Homo sapiens: one gene and its partners. The protein of the gene in region 1 purifies or fractionates together with the protein of each later gene. This does not show direct contact. Each region holds a gene or a part of one and is shown on either strand. Other genes may lie near its edges.

What was found.
Region 2: the proteins of COLGALT2 (region 1) and COL2A1 purify together in Homo sapiens (affinity purification with mass spectrometry; 2 studies listed by BioGRID and IntAct, with this or other methods). This does not show direct contact.
Region 3: the proteins of COLGALT2 (region 1) and KGD4 purify together in Homo sapiens (affinity purification with mass spectrometry; 2 studies listed by BioGRID and IntAct, with this or other methods). This does not show direct contact.
Region 4: the proteins of COLGALT2 (region 1) and VPS33B purify together in Homo sapiens (affinity purification with mass spectrometry; 2 studies listed by BioGRID and IntAct, with this or other methods). This does not show direct contact.

The regions. Positions count from the first base shown.
Region 1 is NC_000001.11:183,971,516-183,978,813, reverse strand, and holds part of COLGALT2 (procollagen galactosyltransferase 2), read left to right. Parts: intron 1-293; coding exon 294-404; intron 405-3,599; coding exon 3,600-3,717; intron 3,718-5,063; coding exon 5,064-5,198; intron 5,199-7,298. UniProt on the Homo sapiens protein: Beta-galactosyltransferase that transfers beta-galactose to hydroxylysine residues of collagen.
Region 2 is NC_000012.12:47,980,477-47,987,476, reverse strand, and holds part of COL2A1 (collagen alpha-1(II) chain isoform 1 precursor), read left to right. Parts: intron 1-163; coding exon 164-208; intron 209-300; coding exon 301-399; intron 400-588; coding exon 589-642; intron 643-1,033; coding exon 1,034-1,141; intron 1,142-1,511; coding exon 1,512-1,565; intron 1,566-1,650; coding exon 1,651-1,749; intron 1,750-1,889; coding exon 1,890-1,943; intron 1,944-2,383; coding exon 2,384-2,482; intron 2,483-2,877; coding exon 2,878-2,931; intron 2,932-3,336; coding exon 3,337-3,390; intron 3,391-3,740; coding exon 3,741-3,794; intron 3,795-4,038; coding exon 4,039-4,092; intron 4,093-4,339; coding exon 4,340-4,384; intron 4,385-4,530; coding exon 4,531-4,629; exon of another isoform or gene 4,630-4,680; intron 4,681-4,867; coding exon 4,868-4,975; intron 4,976-5,002; exon of another isoform or gene 5,003-5,062; intron 5,063-5,316; coding exon 5,317-5,370; intron 5,371-5,647; coding exon 5,648-5,701; intron 5,702-6,050; exon of another isoform or gene 6,051-6,080; coding exon 6,081-6,134; and 7 more. UniProt on the Homo sapiens protein: Type II collagen is specific for cartilaginous tissues. It is essential for the normal embryonic development of the skeleton, for linear growth and for the ability of cartilage to resist compressive forces.
Region 3 is NC_000005.10:69,213,481-69,220,933, forward strand, and holds the start of KGD4 (alpha-ketoglutarate dehydrogenase component 4), read left to right. Parts: upstream 1-4,279; 5' UTR 4,280-4,349; coding exon 4,350-4,391; intron 4,392-7,453. UniProt on the Homo sapiens protein: Molecular adapter that is necessary to form a stable 2-oxoglutarate dehydrogenase enzyme complex (OGDHC). Enables the specific recruitment of E3 subunit to E2 subunit in the 2-oxoglutarate dehydrogenase complex (OGDHC).
Region 4 is NC_000015.10:91,012,332-91,019,629, reverse strand, and holds part of VPS33B (vacuolar protein sorting-associated protein 33B), read left to right. Parts: intron 1-1,744; coding exon 1,745-1,825; intron 1,826-2,565; exon of another isoform or gene 2,566-2,605; coding exon 2,606-2,667; intron 2,668-5,196; coding exon 5,197-5,246; intron 5,247-5,758; coding exon 5,759-5,826; intron 5,827-5,959; exon of another isoform or gene 5,960-7,196; intron 7,197-7,298. UniProt on the Homo sapiens protein: May play a role in vesicle-mediated protein trafficking to lysosomal compartments and in membrane docking/fusion reactions of late endosomes/lysosomes.

The DNA of each region.
Region 1 (7,298 bases):
ATGCTTACACTCTCTTGGTGTTTTCATGTGTTTATTTATTAATGCAACCATTTACACGTTCTCCAATTGGCTGAGCCCTGTTTTAGGATCTAATGACACAAAGATGATTTTAAGCAGTGTCTCTCACTTTGGAAATTTATTGTCTAGTTTGGACTATGAGGGAATTATTTTCATATATACAATTTTTTTTCCAGGAGTAGCCATTCTTCTTTCAGTTAGTCAGGGGTCTTTTGGATTTCCCTCTCTTTCATTGGATGACATAGTTAAACTATATTGTGCTTTCTCTCATGCAGGGCAGCCACTGATCACAATGTGGATAATACAACAGAAATATTCAGGGAGTGGTTGAAAAATGTACAGAGACTCTATCACTATGTGGAGTGGAGGCCTATGGATGAACCAGAGTGAGTAGCAAGTGCGAAATTTGTAAACTCATTATTTACCCTTCCTCTTTAACTAGCTCTTTAGGGCTTCCAGGTTTGGAGGTACATGTGACTTTTCATTGTCTTTCATTTCTGTAGCTATGTGAGTTCTGAATATCTGCCATTTCTCCCTTTTAGAGATCTTCACAGTACTCTCTTGCTGTTTACTCCCACAGCTGCCAGCCAAGTTCAGATTTTCATTACTTCATAAATAAATTGCCATGACAGTTTATATTTTTAAATATTGATATTATTTATTCATATTTTAAACAAACTTTTATATTTGGAGGATCATATTGAAAATGTGTATACTTTCTACATAGAGCTTGCTTTTTTCAACTTTTATCTTGATAATCATTCTATAGCAATAGTTAAGGAGCTAATTTTCATTTTTTTTACTGCATAATCACTGTTGTATGTGCATTTACCATAATTATTTAATTGATCCCCTACTGATGCTCATTTAGGTAATTTCCTATCTTAACCATAGAAATTCCTTCTTTCTTTCTTTTCCTTCTTTTCTTTCTTTTCTTTTCTTCGCTTCTCTTCTCTTCTTTCTCTCTCTCTCTCTCTCTCTCTTTCTCTCTTTCCTTCTTTCTTTCAAGACAGGGTCTCACTCTGTCACCCCAGCTGGAGTACAGTGGCATGACCATAGCTCCACTGTAACCTCGTACTCCTGGGTTCAGGCAATACTCCTCACTCAACCTCCTGAGTAGCTAAGACCACAGCCATGCACCACTATGCCTGGCTAATTTTATTTTTATTTTTTGTAGAGACATGATCTCACCATGTTGTCCAGGCTGGTCTTGAACTCCTGGCCTCAAGCGATCCTCCCACCTTGGCCTTCCAAAGTGCTGGGATTACAGGTGTGAGCCTTTGTGCCTGGTTACCATAACAATTTCTTTCTTTTTTTTTTTTTTTGAGACAGAGTCTTGCTATGTCACCCAGGCTGGAGTGCAGTGGTGCAATCTTGGCTCACTGCAACCTCCGCCTCCTGGGTTCAAGCAATTCTCCTGCCTCAGCCTCCCGAGTAGCTGGGACTACAGGTGTGTGCCACCACACCCAGCTATTTTTTTGTATTTTGAGTAGAGAGGGGATTTCACTATGTTAGCCAGGATGGTCTCGATCTCCTGACCCTGTGATCTGCCCGCCTTGACCTCCCAAAGTGCTGAGATTACAGGTGTGAGCCACCGTGCCCGGCCACCATAGCAATTTATTAATTGCTTCTATCTCCAAGTCATCCTACATACCATACAGTCAAATCAATCTACCTCAAATACAAATGAAATGGTTTCATTTCTTTATTAAAAATACTTCACTTACTCTTTAGGACCTGAACAAAGTTCAAACACCTAAGACTTATATTTTTAAAATTCCATGAATTTAGCACCAAAAGAAAATGTGCTTTATCCAGAACGTTTCTTTTATTTCCAAACCCCACACTGTTGCTTGTGCAGGTCCTGGAAGACCCTTTCCTTCTTTATAACTAATTCTTATCCTAAATCATGCCTACTATAGAAACCTATTCTTAATCACTCAGTTATAAATATCTACCTTTGTCTCAACAATTGTATTGCTTATATTCTATGTCATCCTTTTTGGCACAATGATATACGCAACCAACATTTTCCCCCTATGCAATTAATGTATTTTTTTTCTAAATAAGTTGTAAGTTCTTTGGCAGGGGCTAGAATATATAAACACTTTATATTCCCCCTCTCCCCTCAGAGCCATGTTCTTGGCAGGCACTAAATTAATACTGGTTGGATGAACAAATAAGAACAAGAATAAATGTATTTAAAACTTACTATTATAAATGTTCCCAAAGCTACTACAGTTTTACTTTAAGGAACTGTAGAAATAGAATGAAGGAGTTGCCTGAATTTCTTCCCCAGAGAAGTCATTTATTGAAAGCCAAATTTGTATTATAGTAATAATAAATGCCATTCCAGAACAAGTTTCTGTTCTTCTAGTCTTTCTATATGTAAGAATTATTATAAATATTTATATTATAAAGAAATATATATAAATATGATATAATATATACATATGTGTTTCTCAAATCCAAGCCCATGGACTGTATATCAAGCAAAATTTAACAGTGAAGTCTGAACACCGTAAAAGATTGTAAACACTCCTTTAGAGTGCCTTATAATGGAGTTTGGCCTAACAAAAATGGCACAGAAATACTTTGTGTCCCTTCTTTGCACCTTGGTAATGTTCTCTGCAGCCAGGTTTTGACTAAATATATTATATGCCAAGGTCAGTGTGAAAAAATATTAGAACAGGCATTTTTGGGGGGAATATATTTAGAAAAATGAGAATTCCACTGATTTTCATTGAAACAATAACTGGGGAAGATATTCCAGAGAATTCCTGTGCTGTACATAGTTTTATTAACCTTATTTGTTTAGTTACAGTCTCATTGTTTTTGCAGTTTTTCACTCACTAAAACAAATGTACTGCCAGTGCAGCTATGAGATCTTGAAGTGGTGGCCAGTTTTGGGTTACTGCAACAGTATCAATGTCCGTGCCAGCTGGGTGCCTTCAGAAGGGTTTTGGAGCGTGCTCCAACCCACTTGCCTATGTGGCCATGAAGGAGTCTTGGCCTGGCTGTTTTGTGAATCTTGATAGAGATCCCACGACCTCACTTTACCTAAGATAGATCAATGTGTTAGGCTGTGTGGAATCATTTGTGGAGACTCCAACAAGTAGATTAAACCTTTGATTTTCCTGGGAAACTCATGTTTTACACTGCATACTCTCCAAATCTATTCGATGTCGGGATGTATAAAAATTGTCTAGGAACATGAGCTTTTTGCTTGGATTCAAATCTTGATTGTGCCCCATTGTGTAACATTGGACGAATGACTTAACTGCTCTACCCTGATATCCTCACCTGTGAAATGCAGAGAATAGCAGTACTCACCTCAAAGGGCTCTCATTAGAACCCACTGAAATATTTCATGTAAAGATTCTTGTATACAATGAGCAGTGAGTTACTTGACTTCTCATTGCTCCGGTTTCCTCATCTGTAATATGGGGATGATGATAACAATAATAATAGTATCTACTTCCTGGGATTGATAGAAGATTAAATGAATACATATAAACATTTAGGACAGAGCCTGGTACATGTAGGCACTCAATAATGATGAGCTATTATTATTATTTTAGGTCTTACCCTGATGAAATTGGACCAAAGCACTGGCCAACCTCCCGGTTTGCCCATGTGATGAAACTACGACAGGCAGCCCTTCGAACTGCGAGGGAAAAATGGTCAGACTACATTCTGGTAAAAACAGATGTTTGATTTCTTGACAACTGTCATCTCAGGTGTATCCAAATCAGTCGTCCAAAAACTAGAACCATGGAAGCAATCAAAACAACCTTTTTGATTAGGCAGTGCCTCCCCCACTTTTTAAGAAAGGCACAATGAAATTTTTGGTAGTTTAAAATTGGGCTACCTGGACTTCATCTTCAGGCCCACATGCATTTTCAGTGGGTAAGTGAAGAAGTGCCTGAATTATTTGGTCTCTGCCATGCAACAGGCATAAGAACTCTGCATATTTTTAGCTCACAGGAAAGGCTGTAGGTAAAGCAATGTAAGTTGTTCTTACAACTTTTTGGAAGAATTTGGGGGATATGAAAAAGTAATTATCTAAAAAAGTGATTCAGCTGAACAGCTCTGAAATGGTTCCCTTTTGCTCCTGAATGATCTGGGGAGTAGCATCTGTTGCTTGGCACAGTGATGCTCTCTTTGGAGAATTTATGTCCATCCCCATCCCCTCAACCACAGTGAAAATCTGCCCAAAAATGTATCACGCACACTTGTGACACAAATCCTTTCATAGAAGTTTTCAAATTGTACTGACAATATTTAACATTGTGTAGCTGTTTAAATGCCATTGAAGTGTACAAATGTTAAATCACAAAATTTGGGGTAAACAGATGGACTATCATAAAAATGAAGACTTCTGAATTTTTTATTGTGATAAAACCTACAAAAGGTAAAATCTGTCAGTTTATCCCTTTTTCAGTGTATAGTTCAGTATGATTATTTCTTTTATAAATTAGAATCTGTTGTTATACTGTCTCTAAATAAATCACTGTTAACATGGACTTCTAAGAATAGGAAATAGCTTCACTGGTTAGCATGGGTTGATATAATGTACTTAAACAAAAATTCTACTTGTCACATTAAAATTCATTGATAGATCTGTTTTGAGCTACTCTGGCATTACTATAGAAAAGCTAAGTAGGCATGCCCATCTGTACCTAGACTGGGCAGCCAATAAGTGTTTTTGAATGAACCTTTAATGGCTTGGGAGCCATTAATATCTTGTGCCTAAAACACTAGCCAAAGTGTAGGTTGGTTCCTGGTTGAGGCTATGCCCAGTATGGCAGCACCAATTTACTGCTTAGTGCCTTATGCAGAGCCCAACATACGAAAGTTAGACTAAATATATTTTGACTGAATGAAAGCCACCTAGCTGCAATGGGTTTCAATAAGGAGGACATAGATAGCTGGTTCCATATGTCATGAGCAAGTTTCTGGGATCCTTCAGAAGGGCTGGGTTATTCTCAAACTCATTACTGAAAAGTACCTTTTCACCTAACATTATCCTTTTCTTTTCCTAGTTCATAGATGTTGACAATTTCCTGACTAATCCACAGACCCTCAATCTACTGATTGCAGAAAACAAAACTATTGTGGCCCCCATGCTGGAGTCTCGGGGCCTGTATTCTAATTTCTGGTGCGGAATCACCCCTAAGGCAAGTCTTTTGCTTAAATGAATTAAGGCTACTAGTTTTAACAAGGCAACACCCGGTCAACAGTAGTCCCATTCACCTTTCTCTTGTTTACTCCCTTGAAACATGCGTGTCATTGTGTTCCCAGAGCAAGCATTTTTTAGGAAGGGCAGTAAATCTGGGTCCAATGCTACACCCAGTTGGGCTCTTCTGTGTTAATTTATTATGAAAAAAATAGTCTAAAGAGCTTAGCCTTAGAAACGTCAAATTAGCCAATTCCTGATTCAGGAATTACTATTTTTAATTAATTCTTTTTGTCCTTACAAAACTAACATAAGAACACTATAGAAAAACTTAGAAATTAAAAAAAGTTTAAAAGAAAACCAACAAGACAGATGTTAAATCCCCATCACCGTAACAACATCATAGATAGAAACTTGCACGTTTTTAGTAACTGTGTTATCATCAAGTGGCTATGTTCCAATTTACTTAACCTTTATCTCGGTTTGAAAAACATTTAAATTATTCACAACTTTTTAACTATCGTGACCGTCATGATTAATATAATTTTTCAGCATTTAAGATTATATCCTTAGGATAGCTTTTTAGAAGTGGAATTACTGAGTCAAACAGTACAAATATGCCAGGCGCGGTGGCTCACACCTGTGATCCCAGCACTTTGGGAGGCCAAGGCGGGCGGATTACAAGGTCAGGAGATTGAGACCATCCTGGCTAACATGGTGAAACCTCATCTCTACTAAAAATATAAAAAATTAGCCAGGCGTGGTGTTGGGCGCCTATAGTCCCAGCTACTCGGAAGGCTGAGGCAGGAGAATGGCGTGAACTTGGGAGGCGGAGCTTGCAGTGAGCCGAGGTCGCGCCACTGCGCTCCAGCCTGGGTGACAGAGCGAGACTCCCTCTCAAAAAAGAAAAAAAAAAAAAAAGTACAAATATTTCAATGACCTTCGATGTATGTTGCCAAATTTATTTCCAAAGAGTTCTAATAATGAAAACTACCATGGTAGGTTATTTTTATAAAATTCAAGTTAAAAAAGGTTTGATTTTTTATTATTTCTTTTTTTCATAGTAAAATCTTCAAAATAGTGGTCTGTTTTAGTGAATGCTCATGGCTGGTTATATTTTTTATTCTTTAATTAAAGAATTAGATAAATTCAACTGATTAATGTAATATGTATCAATGTAGGATAAAAATGTGCTAAGCAAAATATGTTGGCCAGGAGCAGTGTCTCATGCCTGTAATTTCAACACTTTGGGAAGCTGAGGTAGGACAATTACTTGAACCCAGGAGTTTGAGACCAACATGAGCAACATGGCGAAACCACATCTCTACAACAAATCAAAAAATTAACCAGTTGTGGTGTCGTGCACACCTATAGTTCCATCTATTCGGGAGGCTGAGCAGGGAGTATTGCTTGAGCCCAAGAAGTTGAGGCTGCAGTGAGCTATGATCACACCACTGCACTGCAGCCTAAGCAACTGAGACCCTGTCTCAAAAAAAGAGGGAGTATGTTCAATGTATTCTCATGGCCAAAGGGCTAAAGTTTGAGTCTCCCCTTTATATTTGGTTTTGTTTTGGATGAGAAATAAGGTCAGTAGTGTGCTGATAAATGTTTAATAACTGGCTCTTTGTGGGAAAAACCCTAGTTGGTAGCATTGCCAATTTTTATGGTTTAAATACTCCCACCATGCAAACAGCTTAAATGTTGTTAAGCTAAGGGAAAGGTTAAGTAAACTGCAGTATAGCCACTTGATGATACAGCTATTAAAAACATGTAAAACTGCCACATGAGGTGTCATTAGAGTGGTGGGGATTAACGTGATTTTTGTTTTTATGGATTCCAAGCTATCAACATGTCAACTGGTTTGCAAACTTTCTGAAAATTTAACAATGTGTGGTCCAGTACACCACTGGATGAAGCATTCCTCTTTTGTTGTAATTATTTCTTCTAGCTGTAAGAGATTTTGAATGCGTGCTATTTTCTGTGTCTCTTTTGGGAAGGTAATATGTTCATATTTCTAACAGCCATTCACTTCCTTGGGAGAAAACATTATATTGGTTTAAATTCATACATTTTCAGTGTTTCACATGGCAGAATCACTTGA
Region 2 (7,000 bases), on another chromosome or scaffold:
CTAGATGTATTCCCTTCTATCCCATCTTCCCCTTGAAACACATAGTGGGAATGTCCCTGAAATGGACAGCACCTATGCCAGGTCCCTGGATCTGGATCCTGGAGGGCTGGAGGTGGTTGGGGTTCATTCTTTGCTGCTTATTTGACAATGTCTCCCTTTTCAGGGTAACCCTGGAACAGATGGAATTCCTGGAGCCAAAGGATCTGCTGTGAGTGTTGCCCGTGGACTTTGCTACCCCAGGAGAGCCCAGTCCTGCCTCTCCCCTCTCCTGACACCCCTCCCTTCTTCTCATGCCCACAGGGTGCTCCTGGCATTGCTGGTGCTCCTGGCTTCCCTGGGCCACGGGGCCCTCCTGGCCCTCAAGGTGCAACTGGTCCTCTGGGCCCGAAAGGTCAGACGGTAAGAGCCCAAAGTGACCCCCAAGTTCCACTGACATCTCTGGAGTCAAACCCCATCACCCCTCTTTCCCATGCTCTCCTGCCCTGGCCTCACAGCGGCCTCCATCCGAGGGCATCTTGAACAGGGGTTCTGGGGAGGGGCAGGCTCCCTGGAGAGAATCTGGTGTGAGGACCTGCCTCTCTTTTCAAGGGTGAACCTGGTATTGCTGGCTTCAAAGGTGAACAAGGCCCCAAGGGAGAACCTGTGAGTATCTGCCCCCAAGCCCTTGTCTTCTCTGCTGCTGTTCTATGAGGCACAGGCCTCAGCCCCACTGACCCACCACCTCCCTCCTCCAGGGCTCTATCCCCCAATCTGGGTCCTTTCAGATTATGCCTGGAGGAGACTTAACAGGGCTGAGAAGGCCCAGATACAGCTTCAGCTCCCATCCTTGGTTTGGCTAGTGTGAACAGTTGGATCTTTAGCCCCTCTCACTTCCCTCTGCCCTGCCATGGCTCGTCCTTTATGGCCTCTCGTCCTCAAGCCCCCCCCCAGCCCTGAAACAGTTGCCAAGGCTACTTCCTTCATACTCTGAGTCGAGGCTTGCTCCAAGGCCAGGTGAAGGCTCACTCTGTTTCTCTTTTTTGCTGGTCCTCAGGGCCCTGCTGGCCCCCAGGGAGCCCCTGGACCCGCTGGTGAAGAAGGCAAGAGAGGTGCCCGTGGAGAGCCTGGTGGCGTTGGGCCCATCGGTCCCCCTGGAGAAAGAGTTAAGTGAATGTGGAGGCTCCATCCCATGGGGCCTGTGACCTCGAGAGGGAAGTGGAGTCCTTGTGGTCCGTGTTCTGGTCAAGTCTCGTGACTTTTCCGCATGTCATCCTCCTCTTTCTCCATCCACACCGCGGGGAGAGGGAGTCTGATCCTGATTTGTGCCGCCAACCACCAGACTGACATGAAATAGTCTGAGCTCCTTCCCAGGAAGCGGGGCAGGCTCCAGAAGTTAACCTCTGAGAATCCTGCAGGCCACAGCTACTGCTCCCCAGAAATTGGGGTTGGTGGGTTAGTGGGATGGACCCACTGGAGCCTGGCTGGGTTGGGGCTGTTCTCACTCACTGCCTCTCCTCCCTGTGGCTCCTTAGGGTGCTCCCGGCAACCGCGGTTTCCCAGGTCAAGATGGTCTGGCAGGTCCCAAGGTGAGTGGGAGAAGAGGGGCTGGGGTCCCTCCCTGCATCGCTGAGGTCACATGGTATCCCACTGACTCCCTGTGTACCCTTGTAGGGAGCCCCTGGAGAGCGAGGGCCCAGTGGTCTTGCTGGCCCCAAGGGAGCCAACGGTGACCCTGGCCGTCCTGGAGAACCTGGCCTTCCTGGAGCCCGGGTAAGTAGCAGAGCTGCTGTTGCCCTTGGCTTCAGACCCTCAGGCCCTTCCTGGCTGGCTCCTTCCAGCCCTGCACTGCCAGGATTGGGAGGTCCTGGGGCCGGCTCCTGACCCCACCCTCTTCTCTCTCCTGAACAAAGGGTCTCACTGGCCGCCCTGGTGATGCTGGTCCTCAAGGCAAAGTTGGCCCTTCTGTAAGTCTATCCTCTGAGGGCTGCTAGGAGGGTGGGGGGATCTCCCTGGGGAAGCAAGGGAAAAGAGAGATGGAGTTTGGGTTAGGGAGGCCTGAAGTACTGTGAATTTTGAGAATTGTGACAGGGGGTAGATGGTAGGCACTGGGGCCAGATGTAACCTGTGCAGTAGCTGTGAGCACTGAAAATGCCACCCCAGTATGCATTCGGGGCTTATCCTTGGGGGAATGATGACATCGTGTGTGCACTTTCTGGGGCAGCTTTCTAAGCTCAGCGGTGTCTTGTTGTAGATGGGCCCATGGGTGTGATGTGGTCAATCCTAGATGCTGAGCATGTGTGGCTGGTGCCTAGTCCTGGGCCTGCCATGTAGGCCCTTAGTGGATGTTGGGTGGATGGATGTGGTCAGAGTGTCTATGTTCTGAGAATGGTGTTCTGTCTTTCAGGGAGCCCCTGGTGAAGATGGTCGTCCTGGACCTCCAGGTCCTCAGGGGGCTCGTGGGCAGCCTGGTGTCATGGGTTTCCCTGGCCCCAAAGGTGCCAACGTAAGTAATAATTTGCTCTTCTATTTCCTTCCATGTGGTGCTACCTACCTCCCTGCCCTCTTGGGGAAAGGGCTGGGTCCTGAGTAGAGTTTAACCAGGGACAGTGATGAGTGGGGCTCCTGTGCCATGGGTGGCAGTGGGGGTCTGTATGTGATTTGGGGAAAATCCATGGCCCCACAGAGCCTCGGGGCATTGCGGCCATAATTGTTCCATGTGGCAGTGCCCAGCAGGCTGGTTGCCATTATGGCCCCTGAACAGAAGAGAAGGGCTGATACTTTGCTTTATCTTGGCTGTCCATCAGGATGTGGCCCCAGGCCTCAGTCCCTGCAGCCCGCTCTGCCCCCAACTCCCTCCCAAACCATCCGCCTCATGGCCCTGCCCTCTCTTTCCTTCAGGGTGAGCCTGGCAAAGCTGGTGAGAAGGGACTGCCTGGTGCTCCTGGTCTGAGGGTAAGTATCCTTCCCCGCTGCCCATGACTTGGTGTTGGCCGGGCATCTGCAGGGAGGACAGGGGAACGGCCTCCCCATGGCATGGTCCCGGGACCCCTCAGTATTGAGTGTTGATCTCTGTGGCTGAGCCCCATGCTGGCTGGGCCCTTTGGGTGTCTACACAGGGAGACTTCTGTTTGCCATTGGTCAGCAGGCCGGGGAGCTGGGGAAGGCTTCCATGCTGAGAACAGCTAAGAAAAGACGGGGCCTGGGAAGGAAGGGAGGGGAAGGTGTGGAAATGGAGCTCAGCTGGGGTACCGTGGAGGTCTGGAAACTCTGGGCCAGAAGTACCTTTGCCCAATCCTAGGGGGACTGCAAGTGGGAAGAAAAGCGTGTCATTGACTTTTCTTTTTCTCTTCTGTCTAGGGTCTTCCTGGCAAAGATGGTGAGACAGGTGCTGCAGGACCCCCTGGCCCTGCTGTAAGTACCTGCCCAGCCTCCCCAGGTGGCCCTGGGGGCAGGGGCTGGGAGGGGTGGGGGTGGGAGAGCCCATCCATTAATGGAGCTGACAGATGTGAATGTGGGCTGAGCTGATACACCAGACTCACTCTGAGCTGAGGCAGGGTGTCCCAGGAGGCTGTGTGGACCCACATTGGTGGAGAGGAGTGTGGGTGGCTGATGGGAGTGCAGGGAGGCATGCATGCACTGTCTGAGTGGTGCAGGAAGACGCCTGTGCTGCCCACCCTGCTGACCTCCCCTGGGCCCTACTAGCTGTGGCTCTCAGGGTCTCTGGAACACTGGCTCAGCTCACCTTTTCTTTTCCACTGCAGGGACCTGCTGGTGAACGAGGCGAGCAGGGTGCTCCTGGGCCATCTGGGTTCCAGGTAGGTGGCTGGACCAGGCTCTCTGTGCAGTCCTTTGCCATACCCAGGGCTCCCTGGGACAGCAGCAGGCACTATCGGTGGAGGGCCCACACCTCTTGCAGGGTGCCAGGCATCGAGCCTTCCCTGCACCCCTGGCTGTCACTGCTGCTGCTTCCTTTCTTTGGGTCTGCCCTATACTGTGCCTCCCTGGGGGCCAGGGCAGCAAACTCACTCCTTTGCTAACGCTTGTCACTTCGGCTTCTAGGGACTTCCTGGCCCTCCTGGTCCCCCAGGTGAAGGTGGAAAACCAGGTGACCAGGTGAGTATGGGGCTCTTTGGACCTGCAACCTGTTTAGATGGGAAGGTCTTTTCTGATGCCTAGGAGGCAAGGGCAAGAGGGCATGAGGAGCCCTGTGAGGCCTGGGAATGTCCTGGACCCATGTCCCAGCCTCCACAGATGACACAATCCCCCATGGGAGGAGTGATATTCAGCCCTGCTGTGGAGAATTGTTCAGGGGTCTGTGATATGAAGCCTTCACTCTCACACATCTTTCTTTGTTCTCCAGGGTGTTCCCGGTGAAGCTGGAGCCCCTGGCCTCGTGGGTCCCAGGGTGAGTATCCTGTTGGCCAATGCGGGCTGCCTCCTTGGGCCTGCCCTGGGTCCTATGCTCCTGCTCCTTTCCCCACCTCCCTGCTTCTCCCTGGACCTTCTCCCCCACTGCTGTTGGTTGATCACTTCTTGGTGTCTCTGCCGCAGGGTGAACGAGGTTTCCCAGGTGAACGTGGCTCTCCCGGTGCCCAGGGCCTCCAGGGTCCCCGTGGCCTCCCCGGCACTCCTGGCACTGATGGTCCCAAAGTAAGTGAGGCTGCATCCTGTAGGGGTCTTCGTGGTAGCCTGGGAGTCCCACTGAGCAGGGAGAAGAGGAGCGGGCTCAGGAGGAATGAAGAACAGAAGTGGGGGGAGCTGGAAAGGAGGTCTACATGGGAGGAAGGGAAGGAAGAGGGGTTTGGGGCCCTGGTTACCCAGGCTCCATGAACATGGGTTCAGGGAGAGGTGCTGTCCACTACAGACTCCCTCTTACCTCCCTCCCCAGGGTGCATCTGGCCCAGCAGGCCCCCCTGGGGCTCAGGGCCCTCCAGGTCTTCAGGGAATGCCTGGCGAGAGGGGAGCAGCTGGTATCGCTGGGCCCAAAGGCGACAGGGTAAGTACTGAGGTTACAGCCTCTCACCAAAGCTGTGGCTTTGCCACATTCCTGCCCCTTGTGATCGCTTCCGTTCCCTTATGGCACCTGGTGATGAAGGTTTCTGTTAGCCCTTTTTGAGGAGCTTAAAGACTCCTTTCCAAAGCTCCCTGCCTTTTAGTGACATCCTTTCCCCTGTTCCTTCATCTCACCCCTGCTGCTCCTCACCCACCCTGAGACCACAGCAAATTCCTCTTGGGCAGGGACTGGGCTTTCCCTAGCACCCCAGCCTGGGTGGGACTGAGCAAACCATGGGGGTCCTGGGGTGCCTGGCTGAGGCGGCTGGTTTTCTCTTCCCTCAGGGTGACGTTGGTGAGAAAGGCCCTGAGGGAGCCCCTGGAAAGGATGGTGGACGAGTAAGTGAATGCGGGCTGCTGGACTGCTGGGCATTAGGATCCTAGCCCTGCACCCAGGAGAGCAGGAGAGAGGGCTGGGCAGTCTGCCACTGGGGTCCCTGGTCCTGTCTCTGTCGGGGCTGGGCAACTGCAGGGACTTCTCTGTTAAAATGGGGCCAGAGGGTAAGTGGGAGCTCTGGAGGCGGTGGGAGCACGCACCAAGGTTGGCTTGGTGCCGGGCCGCACGTGCTCGGCTGGCTCAGCCTGCCTCCCTCACCTCTACCTGCTCTCCCCGCAGGGCCTGACAGGTCCCATTGGCCCCCCTGGCCCAGCTGGTGCTAATGGCGAGAAGGTGAGTCCCGGCTCCTTTCCTCTCCACACCTTGCCTCCCTGTCACACCTCCTTCTTATCTCCTGCCAAAGGCGGTTCTGTCTTGTCCTCCCTCACCACTGTCACCCTCGGCCAAGGCCGTAGGAGTGAAGAGGGGGCCCTCTCAGAAGTGAAGCCGCTGGCAGTGTTCCCTGTTGGGTGGGGCAACTGGGCTGGGGTAAACACACATTCAGCAGAGGCCCTCGAGAGGGTGCGGGTATGGGCTGCACAGTAACACAGGCTGTGCCAGGGGGACCTGGAGCCCCCTTCCCACGAGCAAGGCCCCCCAAATGCACTTTGCCCTCTCCCACTCTGCCTCCCCACCTTCTTACCCCAGCTCTTCCTCCCTTCCCCACCCTCAGGGAGAAGTTGGACCTCCTGGTCCTGCAGGAAGTGCTGGTGCTCGTGGCGCTCCGGTGAGTGTCTGCCCCTCTGAGCCTGGCTCTGCCCGAGGCCCCTGGGAACCAGAGAGCCAGGGAGTCAGTGCAGGCCCTCATGCTGCCTGGTGGCCCTGTGTGCTGCCAGGCACTGGCTCCCTCCCTACCCGCTGGGTCTAGGGTGGGAGGAGAGATGGGAAGGGAAGGGGGAAGGCACGTCACTCCCATCATGTGTTCAGGGTGAGGGCTTTTGGGTTAACAGAGCCTCTGCCTGCGTTCAGGACTAAGGCTGCTTTCAGATCCCCGTCTCTGGGGAACAGGAGGCTGGGCAGGGCCCAAGGGGCTCTTGGAGGGGAGCAGAAGCAGGTCAGGCAGCGGGGCCTGACCTCTCGCCATGCCCCCTTCTCTCACAGGGTGAACGTGGAGAGACTGGGCCCCCCGGACCAGCGGGATTTGCTGGGCCTCCTGTGAGTATCTCTGTCCATCCTCCTGGGTCCCTCCACTCAGGCCAGTTCCACATCCAGCACCCTCGGGCATCGGAGCTTGTCAGGGAGGGAAATGGATGCTCCTCTCCTCTCCTTTCCCGCCTCCATACTAATAGAACCATCATGTCCAGACCAGGACACACACGCAGATACTCACAGAGTCTCCTGCTCTTCTGGAAGAGCTCCAGGGTTTTAGCCTGCCCCTCATTCACCTGCTTCCTCCTTCCCATTATAGGGTGCTGATGGCCAGCCTGGGGCCAAGGGTGAGCAAGGAGAGGCCGGCCAGAAAGGCGATGCTGGTGCCCCTGGTCCTCAGGGCCCCTCTGGAGCACCTGGGCCTCAGGTGGGTAACGCTGCACTCCAAGAATTGTTCCCTCAAGGAAGGGCTCCTGGCGTGCAGATGGGAAGGCCCCAGCAGGC
Region 3 (7,453 bases), on another chromosome or scaffold:
AAAAAACCTCAGTGGTAGTTGTCTGCTATCTAAGGCTAACAATAAAAGGCTGTTACAGAGCTGTATGGCAGGGCCACCCCTGTATGGAGGGCAGACTCCAGACCTGTAGAGCCATCAGCATGCAATACTTGCCTGAGAGAGCCCAGGTACCTCTCTTCAACTGCTGAGAGCTGCTGGGTTGGAACTGTGCCCATCAAAACCATGGGGTAGGGCTGCCCCGGGGCTTTGGGGGTCCAACCCCCAGCCCAATGCATCCTGAAGGCAAGATACTGAGTCAAGAATTATTCTCAAGCTTCAAGAGTTAATGTTGTTGGCCTTTTGGGTTTTTAACTTACTTGGGACCTATTACTCCTTTCTTCTTGCCTATTTCTCCCTCTTGGAATGGGAATGTCAGTCCTGTTCCTGACCCATCATTGTGTTTTGGAAGCACATGTATTTGATTTCACAGGCTCACAGCTGCAGGAGAAGTTGCCTCAGGATGAGTCATGGCCTTGAGTCTCATCCATATCTGATTTAGGTGAGACTCTGGACTTTATAGTTTTGAGTTGGTGCTGGAATGAGTTGAGACTTTTGGGGCTACTGGGATGGATAAATGTATTTTTGGGTTTTTTTTGTTTGTCTTTTGAGACAGTGTTTCCCTTTGTCCCCCAGGCTGAAGTGCAGTGGTACGATCTTGGCTCACTGTGAACAACTTCCGCCTCCCAGGTTCAAGCAATTCTCATGCCTCGGCTTCCAAGTAGCTGGGATTATAGGCATACACCACCACGCTCAGCTAATTTTTTTTATTTTTAGTAGAGACAGGGTTTCACCGTGTTGGCCAGGCTGGCCTGGAATTCGTGACCTCAAGTGATCCGTCTGCCTCAGCCTCCCAAAGTGCTGGGATTACAGGTGTGAGCAACAAGCGTCCGATAAATGTATTTTGCATGTGAGTAGGACATAAATTTGGGGGGCCAAAGGCGGTAAGCTATGGTCTGACTGTGTCCTTCAAAATTCATCTATTGAAAATTGCTAATGTGACAATACGAAAAGGTATTGGAAATGATTAAATCATGAGTACAGAACCATCATGGATGAGATTAAGGCCCTTAAAAAAAGGTTTGAGGGCCAGGCACAATGGCTCACACCTGTAATCCCAGCATTTTGGGCGGCCAAAGTGGGCCGATCACCTGAGGTCAGGAGTTCAAAGCCAGCCTGTCCAACATGGCAAAACCCCATCTCTACTAAAAATACAAAAATTAGCTGGGTGTGGTAGAGGGCGCCTGTAATCCCAGCTACTTGGGAGGCTGCAACAGGAGAATCGCTTGAACCCAGGAGATGGAGGTTGCAGTGAGCCGAGATTGTGCCACTGCACTCCAGCCTGGGTGACAGAACAAGACTGTCTCAAAAAAAAAAAAAAAAAAAGTTTGAGGGAATGGGTTCCTTCTCTTCTGCCCTTCTGCCATGTGAGCACACAGTGTTAAACCCCTCGGATGAAGCAGTGTTCAAAGCACCATCTTGGAAGAAAAGACTGAGCCCTCACAAAACACCGAAACTGCTGGTACTTTGATCTTAGACTTTTGAGCCTCCTGAACATGAGAAATAAATTTCTGTGGTTATAAATTACCCATACTAAGGTATTTTGTTACAGTAGCACACATGGACTAACAGAGGAGCTAATCAACATTTATAGAATACTCCACCAAACAACAGCAGAACACTCTTTTCAAGTGCTTACAGAACATAAACAACATAGACCATATCCTGGATGACAAAATATCAACAAATATAAAAGAATTGAAATTATACAGACTGTGTTCTGACTACAAGGGAATCAAATGAGGAATCAGTAACAGTCAGATAACAGGAAAATTTCCAAATACTTGGAAACTGAACACACTTTTAAATGAGGCATAGGTCAAAGGAGTCTCAAATGAAAATTTTCTAAAAAGCATTGAACTGGGCCAGGTGCGGTGGCTCACACCTGTAATCCCAGCACTTTGGGAGGCCAAGGTGGGCGGATCACCTGAGGTCAGGAGTTTGAGATCATTCTGGCCAACACGGAGAAACCCTGTCTCTACTAAAAATACAAAAATTAGCTGGGCGTGGTGGTGGGCACCTGTAATCCCAGCCACTCAGGAGGATGAGGCAGGAGAATCAGTTGAACCCAGGAGGCAGAGGTTGCATTGAGCTGAGATCATGCCACTGCATCCAGCCTGGGTGTCACAGCGAGACTCTGTCTCAAAAAAAAAAAAAAATTATCGGCTGGGCACGGTGGCTCACACCTGTAATCCCAGCACTTTGGGAGGCTGAGGCGGGCAGATCACGAGGTCAGGAGATGGAGACTATCCTGGCTAACACAGTGAAACCCTGTCTCTACTAAAAATACAAAAAAAATTAGCCTGGTGTGGTGGCGGGTGCCTGTAGTCCCAGCTACCTGGGAGGCTGAGGTGGGAGAATGGTGTGAACCAGGGAGGCGGAGCTTGCAGTGAGCCGAGTTGGCACCACTGCACTCCAGCCTGGGTGACAGAGCAAGACTCTGTCTCAAAAAAAAAAAGAATTACCACAGATGAATGGATAAGCAAAATGTGGTATACACATATAATGGGATTTTTTCAGCCTTAAAAAAGAAATTCTGACACATTCTACAACATGAATGAACTCTGAAGACATGCTAAGTGAAACAAGCTAATTACAAAAGGACAAATACTGTTATGGCTCCACGTACATTAAGTACCCACAGTAGTCAAATTCATAGACAGAAAGTAAAATGATAGTTGTCAGAGGCTGAGGGAAGGAGGAATAAGTTTTTGTTTAATGGGTACAGTTTCTGAAGATGGTAACAATTGCCCAACAATGTGAATGTACTTAATGTGACTGAACTGCACATTTGAAAATAATTAAAATGGGGCCAGGCGCAGTGGCTCACGCCTGTAATACCAGCACTTAGGGAGGCTGAGGTGGGTGGATCACTTGAGGCCAGGAGTTGGAGATTAGTCTGGCCAATATGGTGAAACTCTGTCTCTACCAAAAATACAAAAATTAGCCAGGCGTGGTGGCGGGCGTCTGTAATCCCAGCTACTGGGGAGGCTGAGGCTGGAGAATTGCTTGAATCCAGGAGGCAAAGGTTGCAGTGACCTGAGATCACGCCACAGCACTCCAGGCTGGGCAACAGAGCGAGACTCCGTCTCAAAAAAAAAAAAAAAAACCACAAAAACAAAACAAAACAAAACGGGTTAATGGCCTCTCTGTAGTCACTGAATCCCAATAGACCATACCTGGGTTCAGTAATTTATATTTCTAAAAAGATCCCAAGACTTAGAAATCACTGATGTATATCATCAAACACATTGGTCAAGCTTACAATACTATATATAACCTAAGCATTATCACAGAACGTAATGTAACTTTTTTTTTTTTTGAGACGGAGTCTCCCTCTGTCGCTCAGGCCGGAGTGCAGTGGCACACTCTCGGCTTACTGCAACCTCTGCCTTCTGGGTTCAAGCAATTCTCCTGCCTCACCTCCTGAGTAGCTGGGACTACAGGCGCCCGCCACCACGCCCGGCTAATTTTTGTATTTTTAGTAGAGACAGGGTTTTACAATGTTGGCCAGTCTGGTGTCGAACTCCTGACCTCAAGTGATCCGCCCGCCTCAGCCTCCCAAAGTGCTGGCATTACAGGCGTGAGCCATAGCGCCCCGCCCGTAATGTAATTTTGGGGGAAAGATATGAGTGGCTTACATTTCAAATATTTCTGAATTTTTGAGTTATCTCAACTTGAAGCAAAGGCCCAGCAGTTCGATATCAGGAGTAATAAACGGTAAAGAAAACAGAAACAAATTACAATCAAGCAATGCCAATCAGCAAGAGAGTGTGACATGGCCCTTTTTAAGCCAGAGTAAACTCTTGTGAGCTTGCCACTAACTCCCATTTTAACGAAATTATTCATTTTAGGAAACCGCAAGGTTTTTTTTTTGTTTTTCTTTAATTTTTTTAATCTTTGCAAGAGCTGTCAGATAAGAAGGTTGTATTATTTATTTGGTTCCAGATAAAATTTTGAACTATATCGAAATTATAGACTGGCTTTCTGGAAAGGAAATGGTCCTAGACAATTTATAGGCTAATGAGCAGAGACCCACCTTAACAAAATTTTGTCCCCAAAACGAAACAATAGAACACACGTGGGTGGATCCTAGTAGGGAGAAGGGGTGGGCGGGGTCAGGCACAGGGGGCGGAGCCAGCCCCACGGCGGAGGAGAGCCCAGTCCGGTCTCCGCCTCCGTGACGTCCCGGGAAGCACCGCCCACAGCTGCCCGGGACTCCAGTGATCGCCGCGGCTCGCTCGCGCCCCGGAAACTGCCCCTTCTCGGGGGTCATGATGGGCAGCAAGATGGCGTCTGCTAGTAGGGTCGTTCAGGTAAAGCAATTTGTCGCGTTTCCGCATCTTGGGCGGTAGGGACGGTGCTGACTATGGCGACGGCGTCGGGGAGTAAAGGCGGTGGCAGAGGCAGAGCGGTGACCGCGCCTCTGCGGAGGGCCAGTGACGGCGCCCGCGGGTGTGTGTGAGGATGGGACTTTGAGCCTGTTGGACCGGGCAGTGAGGTGGGTCCGGCGCCGAGGGTTCGAGCCTTGCGGCAACCGTGCAGCATCTTGGCAGGTAGGTCCTGTACCTACTGCCGGGATCCCCCGCTCCTCCGCCAGGACCTTGTTAGTCTTAGGCGTGTGCGGGTGAGGCGACCCTGGCGGTAGCCTGGCCAATCGCCGTCTAGGATTGGCTGTGGTGCCCCCGATCAGCCAATCGGAAGGAAGGCGGTAGCGGGGCGTGGAAGGAAGCGAACCCTGGATCTGACCCACTGTCCCTTCAAGGTCTCGGGAATGGTCGGGCAACTGGCCCCGCGTACTGCGTCCTCGCCGGAGCGGGTTCTCCCCAACCTCTCCAAGCGTCTGGCTACAGGCCAGATGAGGGAAATAGAAAAGTAAACTTAAGTTTAATTAGTATGTGTGTGTGTATATTAATGTGTGTGTGTGTGTGTGTGTGTGTGTGTATAAGCGTTGGTTTCACAAGCCTATTTTCCCCTGGTTTAGATAGACAGCTAAAGTAACTTTGTTAATCCACCTATCAGCTACTAACTCCTGATAGCCTTTTTATTTGTTTCTTCAGCTGTGGTTCTAACTTAGGTAAAATTATTATATAAGTGGAACACAACCTCCACTTTTGTGGTTGGTTTACATAGTCTTTGAACCCTGAAACTATATTATTTTATAATTGACTTTTATCTTTGATATGAGAAGTACATTCCGCTTTATATAAGTACATCTCTTAAAAGACCTTTTTCTAAATTCCTGAAATTGTTGTCTGAATGATAATCCTAGATCCCAGTCTTTGGTCCCATTGCAATGAATGATCCTTACTTATTCAGTAGGTAGTTACTGAGCATCAACTAGTTAAAGATTCTGTAAGGACTGAGAGACTGACAAAGGTCTGTTATCCATAATATATAACCATATGTATCAATAATATATAACAATTTAAAAATGGGTAAAAGACTTGGCGTGTTGCACAAAAGATACCCAAATGAGCAATGAACATTTTAAAAGGTGCTCAATATCATTACTTGCCAGGAAAATAAAAATTAAAACCATGAGGTCCTACACATCCACCAAAATGACTAAAATTTAGACGTCAGTGGTGATGAGAATGTGAAGCGTCTGAAACCCTCAATATTGCTGGTGGGAATATAAAATGTTATAGCCACTTTGGAAAGCTGTCAGTCTCTAATAGTTAAGCATGTATCTACCGTATGACCCAGCAATTCTACTCATAGGTTTATTGCCCAAGAGAAGTGAATGCACATACTGTCTCTGTACGTAAATGTTCACAGAAAAAAAAGAGTTACTAGCAAAGAACTGGGGTCCAGAGCTGAGGGGTTCCAGCCTGGCAGCAGGAGTGTGGCATCTCAGCAGGCAGGTACTATATATACTGCCATGGGGTCCCTGGCTCTATTTCTGATAGCCCCCAAACCACAAACAATCTCTATGTCTGTCTTTTGCATAAACAAATTGTGGTAGTTTGTTAAAATAGTACAGTCCAAAGCAATACTAACAGCTGATGTGTGCAAACAAATGAAGAAACTGTGAGATATACAGTAAGGAATGGTCTGTGCCCTTCTAACATAGGAACAAAGACCTGTACTCACCTATTTAGAATTCAAATCAGGTTCGTGATTGCGCTCTTAAAAAAAAAGAAAAAAAGAGAGAATACAACCAATATGCTAATATAATATCACTTGAGCCTAGGAGTTTGACGCTGCAGTGAACCACAATCACCCCACTGCACCCCAGCCTGTGTAACAGAGCAAGACCTGGTCTCGAAAAATAAATAATAAAGTATGTGCTAATATTATGTAATAATTACATATAACATTAGCAAAATTTGTTGAGTATCTCTGTGACAGGCCTATAAAGCTAGGACTACAGTGCCAGTTAGAGTTTAGGCCAGGCTCACTGATGTATGCCTGTAATCCCAACACTTTGGTAGTTTGAGGCAGGAGGATGGCTTGAGCCCAGGAGTTCAAGACCAGCCTGGGCAAAATAGCAAGACCCCATCTCTATAAAAATTTTAAAAAATTAGCTGAGCATGGTGATGTGCACCTGTGGTCCCAGCTACTCAGGAGGCTGAGGTGGGAAGATTGAGCCTGGGTGATCAAGGCTACAGTGAGCCATAATCATGCCACTGCATTCCAGCCTGGACAGTAGAGCTAGACCCTGACTCAAAAAAAAAAAACAAAAAAACATAGAGCTTAGAATTTGGTTGTTGATCCATATCTTGAAGGAAGAGAAGAGTGCCAAAAGACTGATTGGTACAAACTGATAGGAAGTCACAAAGCGTGGTCTCAGAACATTAAGTAAAGACAAAGCCAGCTGGGCACGGTGGCTCACACCTGTACTCCCAACACTTTGGAAAGCCAAGGTGGGAAGATTGCTTGAGCCAGGAGTTCAAGATTAGCCTAGGCAACATAGCAAGACCCCATCTCTATAAAAATTAGCCAGGCAGCCGCCCCGTCTGGGAAGTGAGGAGCGCCTCTGCCCGGCCGCCCCGTCTGGGATGTGAGGAGCGCCTCTGCCCGGCCGCCACCCCGTCTGGGAAGTGAGGAGCGCCTCTGCCTGGCCGCAGTGCAATCTTCCAAGTGTGAAGTGACAGCCTTTCTGCAGGTGTACCCAACAGCTCTGAAGAGACAGCAACCATCGAGAACGGGCCATGATGACGATGGCGGTTTTGTCGAAAAGAAAAGGGGGAAATGTGGGGAAAAGAAAGAGAGATCAGATTGTTACTGTGTCTGTGTAGAAAGAAGTAGACACAGGAGACTCCATTTTGTTCTGTACTAAGAAAAATTCTTCTGCCTTGGGATGCTGTTAATCTATAACCTTACCCCCAACCCCGTGCTCTCTGAAACGTGCTGTGTCCACTCAGGGTTAAAT
Region 4 (7,298 bases), on another chromosome or scaffold:
GGAATGCTTCAATACACAAAAGCTTTATTTTTCCCTGTTAATTAGAGGATCAAGGCCACACTCCCCTAAGCTGGCATTTGGAGCCCTTCCTGCTCAATTCTAACCAACTATTTTGGTCTATTTTTCACCATTCACCTACCTCAAGATTTCCTACCCTCTGTTGACCATTTTGAGTTTGGGAAACTAAAAAATAAATAAACATTTAAAAAGGCCAAACGTGGTGGCTCACACCTATAATCCCAACAGTTTGGGAGGCTGAGGCAGGTGGATCACCTGAGGAGGTCAGGGGTTCGAGAACACCCTGGCCAACATGGCGAAATTCCATGTCTACTAAAAATACAAAAATTAGCCAGGTGTGGTGGCATGCGCCTATAATCCCAGCTACTCGGGAGGCTGAGACAGGAGAATTGCTTGACCCTGGGAGGCAGAGGTTGCAGTGAGCTGAGGTCGTGCCACTCCAGCCTGGGCGACAGAGTAAGACTCTATCTTTAAAAAAAAAAAAAAAAAAAAAAAAACAGGCCAGGAGCAGTGGCTCACACCTGTAATCCCAGCACTTTGGGAGGCCGAGGCAGGTGGATCATGAGGTCAGGAGTTCAAGACCAGCCTGGCCAAGATGGTGAAACACCGTCTCTACTAAAAATACAAAAATTAGCCAGGTGTGGTGGCAGGCACCTGTAATCTCAGCTACTCGGGAGGCTGAGGCAGAGAATTGCTTGAATCCGGGAGGCGGAGGTTGCAGTGAGCCGAGATCACGCCACTGCACTCCAGCCTGGGTGTCAGAGGGAGACTTCATCTCAAAAAACAAACAAACAAAACAAAACAACAAATAAGATTTAAAAAAAAAGATTTCCTGCTCTCTATACTGTTGACTTTTTGGGCTGGATCATTCTTTGTGGTGGGGGCTGGCCTGTGCATTGTTGGATGTCTAGCAGCACCCCTGGCCTCTACCCACAAGATGCCAGTAAAACCCCTACCCTGAGTCAGATAACCAAAAATGTGTCTGGACATTGCCAAATGTCCCTCGGAGGGCAAAATCGTCCCCTTACTACACAGCCTATGCTCTCTTTCTGATCTTTGCTGGACTGTCCTCTTCATCCATCCATGTCAACACCCTACTCATTTGTGAAGGCCTGGGTGAGAGGAAACTCCCAGTGACTTTCCCCTCCCTGTCACTAACTGTGACCTCTCCTTCCTCTGAACAGACATTGAGATCGGTGTCAGGAGTGGTGGTGCAGGAATCGTATGACAGGGATTGTGGGGTGGGGGAGTGGAAGGGTGATGGGGTGAGGACTGTCCTGGGTTTGCTAAGTTTTCTGCAGTGAACGTGTGCTATTTTATTTTGTACTTAGGAGAAAAATGCAAGGTGGGGTTCTGTTGTGTTTGGCTTTGTTCAGCAGGAGACCAGGGGTGGTTAGGAGCCAGAGTGGAGGAGGCAGCAGAGAAGGGGAGTGAGGTGCAGACCAAGGTCACAGGTGAGCAGAAGGGTTGAGTGACAAGGAGTTAACCTGAGAAAGAAGGTGGGATGTCTTCTTCCCACTGGTACAGAAAACGAGAAGGCAAAATAGGTAAATATACAGAGAAGTGTCAACTGTGGATACAGATAATAAATAAGGTGACGGGCTAGACGATACTTAGTGCCCTCCCACCTCAGAGACTGTTTCTGTTAGATGGGTGGCTGGGCCACTTCTCAGCTGCGGAAGCTCATGTGACCTGTGAGTGACCCAACATATTGTGTCTCCTTCAGCTTCCTGGAAAAAAGGATTTATTCATTGAGGCAGATCTCATGAGCCCTTTGGATCGAATTGCCAATGTCTCCATCCTGAAGGTACTGTCCCTTTCCCCTGGGGGCCATGCCCCTCTTTAAGCAGTTTTTCTTTTGATGAACAATACAAACTACTGAAGAGTGACTACTCTTGTAGGGCAAATATAGGGTAGCTTAATTGGGTAGAAAAGGGAGATTGATGCTGTTCGTATTTTTTTGTTTTGTGTTTTTTTGCGGCGGGAGACGGAGTCTCTCTCTGTTGCCCAGGCTGGAATACAGTGTAGTGACACAATCACAGCTCACTGCAGCCTTGACCTCCTGGACTCAGGTGATCCTCCTGCCTCAGCTTCCCAAGTAGCTGGGACCACAGGCATGTGCCACCACACCTGGTTAATTTTTAAATTTAAATTTATTATTTATTTTTCTGAGTCTGTTTACTACAGAATATATATATATATATATATATATATATATATATATATATATATATATATATATATTTAATTTTGTAGAGATGGAGTCTTGTTATGTTACCCAGGCTGATCTCAAACTCCTGGGTTCAAGTGATCCTCCTACCTTGGCCTCCCAACGTGCTGGGATTACAGGCATGAGCCACCACACCTGGCCCATACTGTTTTTATATTGTTTTATTTTAGGTTTTTCTATTGACAGTTTGAGGAAAATTCAGTGGGATGGTCGTCAGGGGAGCATAATTAGCATAATTAGGAAGCCCTCAATAATTAGCATAATTAGGAAGCCCTCAAGAAGTCCCCTATCTTCGTGTCACACTTTGTGCTTTTCAGGCACTCTTATGTCCATTGTCTTATTGGATTCTCTCTGTAGCAACACGAAGTAGACAAGCTATACAAGGTGGAGAACAAGCCAGCCCTCAGCTCCAATGAACAGTGAGTGTCTGGGAGAGTCTGTCCCTACTCCAAGCTGGAAGAGGTCCCTAGGGGCACGTCTGCCTTTCATCTGTCCTTGGCTGAGATATATGGTTCACCTCCCTGAACTTTACAATTTCATGGCTAGGTTAATCTTCTGTTGTTTTGTTTTGTTTTCTGTAGTTTCCTTTCTGTGGTTTCTTGTCCTCTTCCCTCTCTAATTTATAATACAGTCTATAACCAGATTGACTAATCTTTCAAAATTATTTTCATCGTGCTTTTCTCAAGAACCTGCAAGGCAGCTGGGTGCGGCGGCTCATGCCTGTAATCCCAGCACTTTGGGAGGCCGAGGCGGGCGGATCTTCTGAGGTCAGGAGATAGAGACCAGCCTAGCTATCATGGTGAAACCCCATCTCTACTAAAAATACGAAAATTAGCCAGGTGTGGTGGCGTGTGCCTGTAATCCCAGCTACTCAGGAGGCTGAGCCAGGCGAATCGCTTGAACCCGGGAGGCGATGAGTTGCAGTGAGCCAAGATCGCGCCACTGCAGTCCAGCCTGGGTGACAGAGCAAGACTCCATCTCAAAAAAAAAAAAAAAAAAAAAAAAAGAAGAATCTGCAAGGCCTCTTATTACTTGCTGAAGATTGTCCACATTATTTGTCATAGACTTCAAGGCTGTCTGCAGCGTGGCCTCCCACGTTACCTTTCCAGCCTTGTCTCGTGTGTCCCCTTCAAGCCTCTGTTGACATGTGCTTCCACCTGCCTCTCAGCCTGTGCCTTCACCCTTTTCATCACTCCATTCGCTCTGCCTGAAATTCTCTCCTGTCCTCACTGCTCCTATAAAGAATGTCCATCCTTCAGAGCCCGGCCACCTCCTCCATGAAGCTCTCTGTTGCCCTTCCAGTCTAGAGTGATTTTCTCCTCTGGATTTCCATGGCATTTTGTATTTGTCCTGTTCGCTCGGCATGTAGTCATGTACAGCTGTTGTCTTGATTTTAAAGTATTTCTGAAACTTAATTAATGTACATGCTTTCTTAGAAGAAAAAATTCTCCTGGATACATGGAGAATATATCCATGTACCCCAGTTTGAAAAAAAATATTTTCTATTACTTTCTTATATTTAAATTTTTTTAATTAAATTTATTTATTTTCAGAGACAGGGTCTCACTCTGTTGCACAGGCTGGAGTGCAGTGGTGCAATCATAGCTCACTGCAGCCTTGAGCTCCTGGCTCAAGGGATCCTCCTACCTCAGTCTCCTGAGTAACTGGGATTACAAGTGTGCAGCACTGCATCCGCCTATAGTTTTATTTTATTTTATTTTTTTGAGTAGGAGTCTAACTCTGTCACCCAGGTTGGAGTGCAGTGGCGGGATCTGCCTCCCAGGTTCAAGCAATTCTTCTTAGCCTCCCAAGTAGCTGTGATTACAGGCGCCTGCCACCTTGCCCAGCTAATTTTTGTATTTTTAGTAGAGATGGAGTTTCTCTATGTTGGCCAGGCTGGTCTTGAACTCTTGACCTCAGGTGATCCGCACTCCTTGGCCTCCCAAAATGCTGGGATTATAGGCATGCACCACCTCGCCAGGCCTTATAGTTCTTTTATTTTACTATTATTATTTATTATTATTTTATTTTATTTTATTTTTTTTGAGACGGAGTTTAGCTCTTGTCATCCAGGCTGGAGAGCAATGGCGCGATCTGGGCTCACTGTAACCTCCACCTCCTGGGTTCAAGCGATTCTCCTGCCTCAGCCTCCTGCGTAGCTGGGATTACAGACATGCGCCACCATGCCCAGCCAATTTTTGTATTTTTAGTAGAGACGGGGTTTCACCATGTTGGCTGGGCTGGTCTCAAACTCCTGACCTCAGGTGATCCACCCGCCTCTGCCTCCCAAAGTGCTGGGATTACAGGTGTGAGCCACCATGCCCAGCCAATGTTTGTATTTTTAGTAGAGACGGGGTTTCACCATGTTGGCTGGGCTGGTCTCAAACTCCTGACCTCAGGTGATCCACGCGCCTCTGCCTCCCAAAGTGCTGGGATTACAGCACTATTATTATTTTTAATAGAGATGAGGTCTCACTGTGTTGCTGAGGCTAGTTTCGAACTCCTGAGCTCAAGCAATCTTCTCACCTTGGCTTCCCGGAGTGTTAAGATTACAGGTGTGAGCCACCATGCCCAGCCTTTATTTTTAACTGACAGATAATAATTGTATATTTTTATGGGGTATTCTTATATTGTTTTTCAGCACTGATTGTTAATATACTCCATATCTGCATCTTTTTTTGCCCACTGGATTGTAAATTATTTGAGAACAGGAACTTTTGGGTCCACCATAGGGCCAGTAATGTACCCAGCTCATCACATTATACCCATTGTGTTGAGAGGTATCTTCTGTGGTTGGTATATGGTGGACCAAGAGAATAGCATAGCTTTGGCTAGGATGAGACCTGTAGGGCAAATGGCAAAAGAGTTGGTATTGTTTCAGTTTCTTCTAAGTTGCTATCCAACTTGATAATTCTTCTTCACTGTTTTTTTTTCTTTCTCTCTCATAGATTGTGCTTCTTGGTCAGACCCCGCATCAAGAATATGCGATACATTGCCAGTGAGTGTGCCATGGTACTATGTGTAACTGTGGGAAAGGGCGGGCAAAATCTAAGGGCCTTGGCCATAAGGACCCTCTAATAAGAAAATAATTGTTTGAGTTGGCCGTAGCACTTGTGGAGGATGTCTGCTTCCCCGCTTCTTTTTTTTTTTTTTTTTTTTTTTGAGACGGAGTTTCACTCTTGTTGCCCAGTCTGGAGTGCAATGGCACGATCTCGGCTCACTGCAACCTCCGCCTCCTGGGTTCAAGCGATTCTCTTGCCTTAGCCTCCCAAGTAGCTGGGATTACAGGTGCCCACCACCAGATCGGGCTAATTTTTTGTGTTTTTAGTAGAGACAGAGTTTCACCATGTTGGCCAGGCTGGTCGCAAACTCCTGACCTCAGGTGATCCACCCGCCTCAGCCTCCCAAGTGCTGGGATTACAGGCGTGAACCACTGTGCCCGGCAGCTTCCCTGTTTCTAGCATAACAGATGGCCCATGACTTGCTGGGCTGCATTCCTTCTCTCTGTAGGTCTTGTCAATGCTGACAAATTGGCTGGCCGAACTCGCAAATACAAAGTGATCTTCAGCCCTCAAAAGGTGAGTTTGGATCCTGGAGGAAGTGGGATAAGGTAGAACAGGACTGAGGACCGGGCAGGGGTAAGGGGCCAACAGCACTACCTCCCTGTCTCCGTTCGTTTTCTGTTGCTGTAACAGAATACCTGAGACTAGGTAATTTATAATGAACAGAAATTTATTTAGCTCATGGTCTGGGGAGGTTGTGAAATCCAAGACTGTGGGGCTGGCATCTGGCGAGGGTCATCCCATGGCAGAAGGGTGGAAGGTGGAAGCCAGCACATGAGACCAAGAGACACCCAGGGGCTGGACTCGCCTTATAGCAACCCACTCCTGCCATAAGGACATTAATCCATTCATGAGGACTCCTCCCTCATAACCCAATCACCTGTTATTAGGCTGCACCTCCCAACACTGTTGCACTGCAGATTCAGTTTCCAACAGATGAACTTTTGGGAGACACATTCAAACCATAGCACTCCCTCAAAGCAAATTATGTGTGATTGAACCTAATACCTGTCACTAACGCATCCTCAATTCATTAACATATCCTCATTTGTTTAGCAGAGGGTCTGTCATCATACTGTCCCAAATAAAGTATTGTGGAATTGTGCGAAGAGGCCTCTACGTAGATTTTTTTAAATGAAAAGCTTCACGCTTGCGAGGTAGAACCTGCTCTGTATCCCTAACACAAACTCTAGTATAGTAATGGTGCACAATGTTACGGCTTTCCAGTGACTTTCTCCCTGTATCCCTTTAAGAATAAATACGATAAATCATCACCCTCCCTCTTCCCATCCGCTATGCTTATAAGGATGTGGCTGGGCTGCCCCTGGGTTACTAGAACCATGCCACCATATATTGGAAAAGCCTTTTCTTGCACAGGAAAGGAACCTTAGAGACTGTTTTACTCCACCCCAACTTTGAGCAGCTGAGGGAACTGAAGCCCATGCTCACACAGTGAGTTAGCACAGCCAGAGTAGAGCTCTTCCATCTTTAACTCAATAATTGCAGTACATATTTGGAGGTCCATCATAGTCTGTCCATTTCTTGATTCCATTGAGCTCCCCTCTCACCTCCACATCAGCTACGTGCATCCTCAATCCCAGTGATTGGGAGGAATGACGTTCCAGGCCTTTACCTTGCCAACCATAGGCCTCTAAAGCTACAGCAAGTAGTGCATGCATACTTACAGAAGGTAGAAGCTAGACTAGGAAGAACAGGGATTTATTCCTTTTCAATCTTTCTAAGAAAATTCTAGAGAAAATAGAGGCAGTAACTAAGGACTGAAGCCTCTGAAACCAGGCTGTCTGGATAAAATCCACCCTTGAGGCCTTATTACCTGTGTGGTCTTGGGTTAGGTACTGAGCTGCTCCGTGTCTCGGTTTTCTCATCTGGAAGATAGAGTTGATAATAGTACTTATCTTTTAATTTAAGTGAGATGACTTTGAGTCTCTGTTGAAATAAGAAATCAAGTGGGACCCTAGGCTTATATT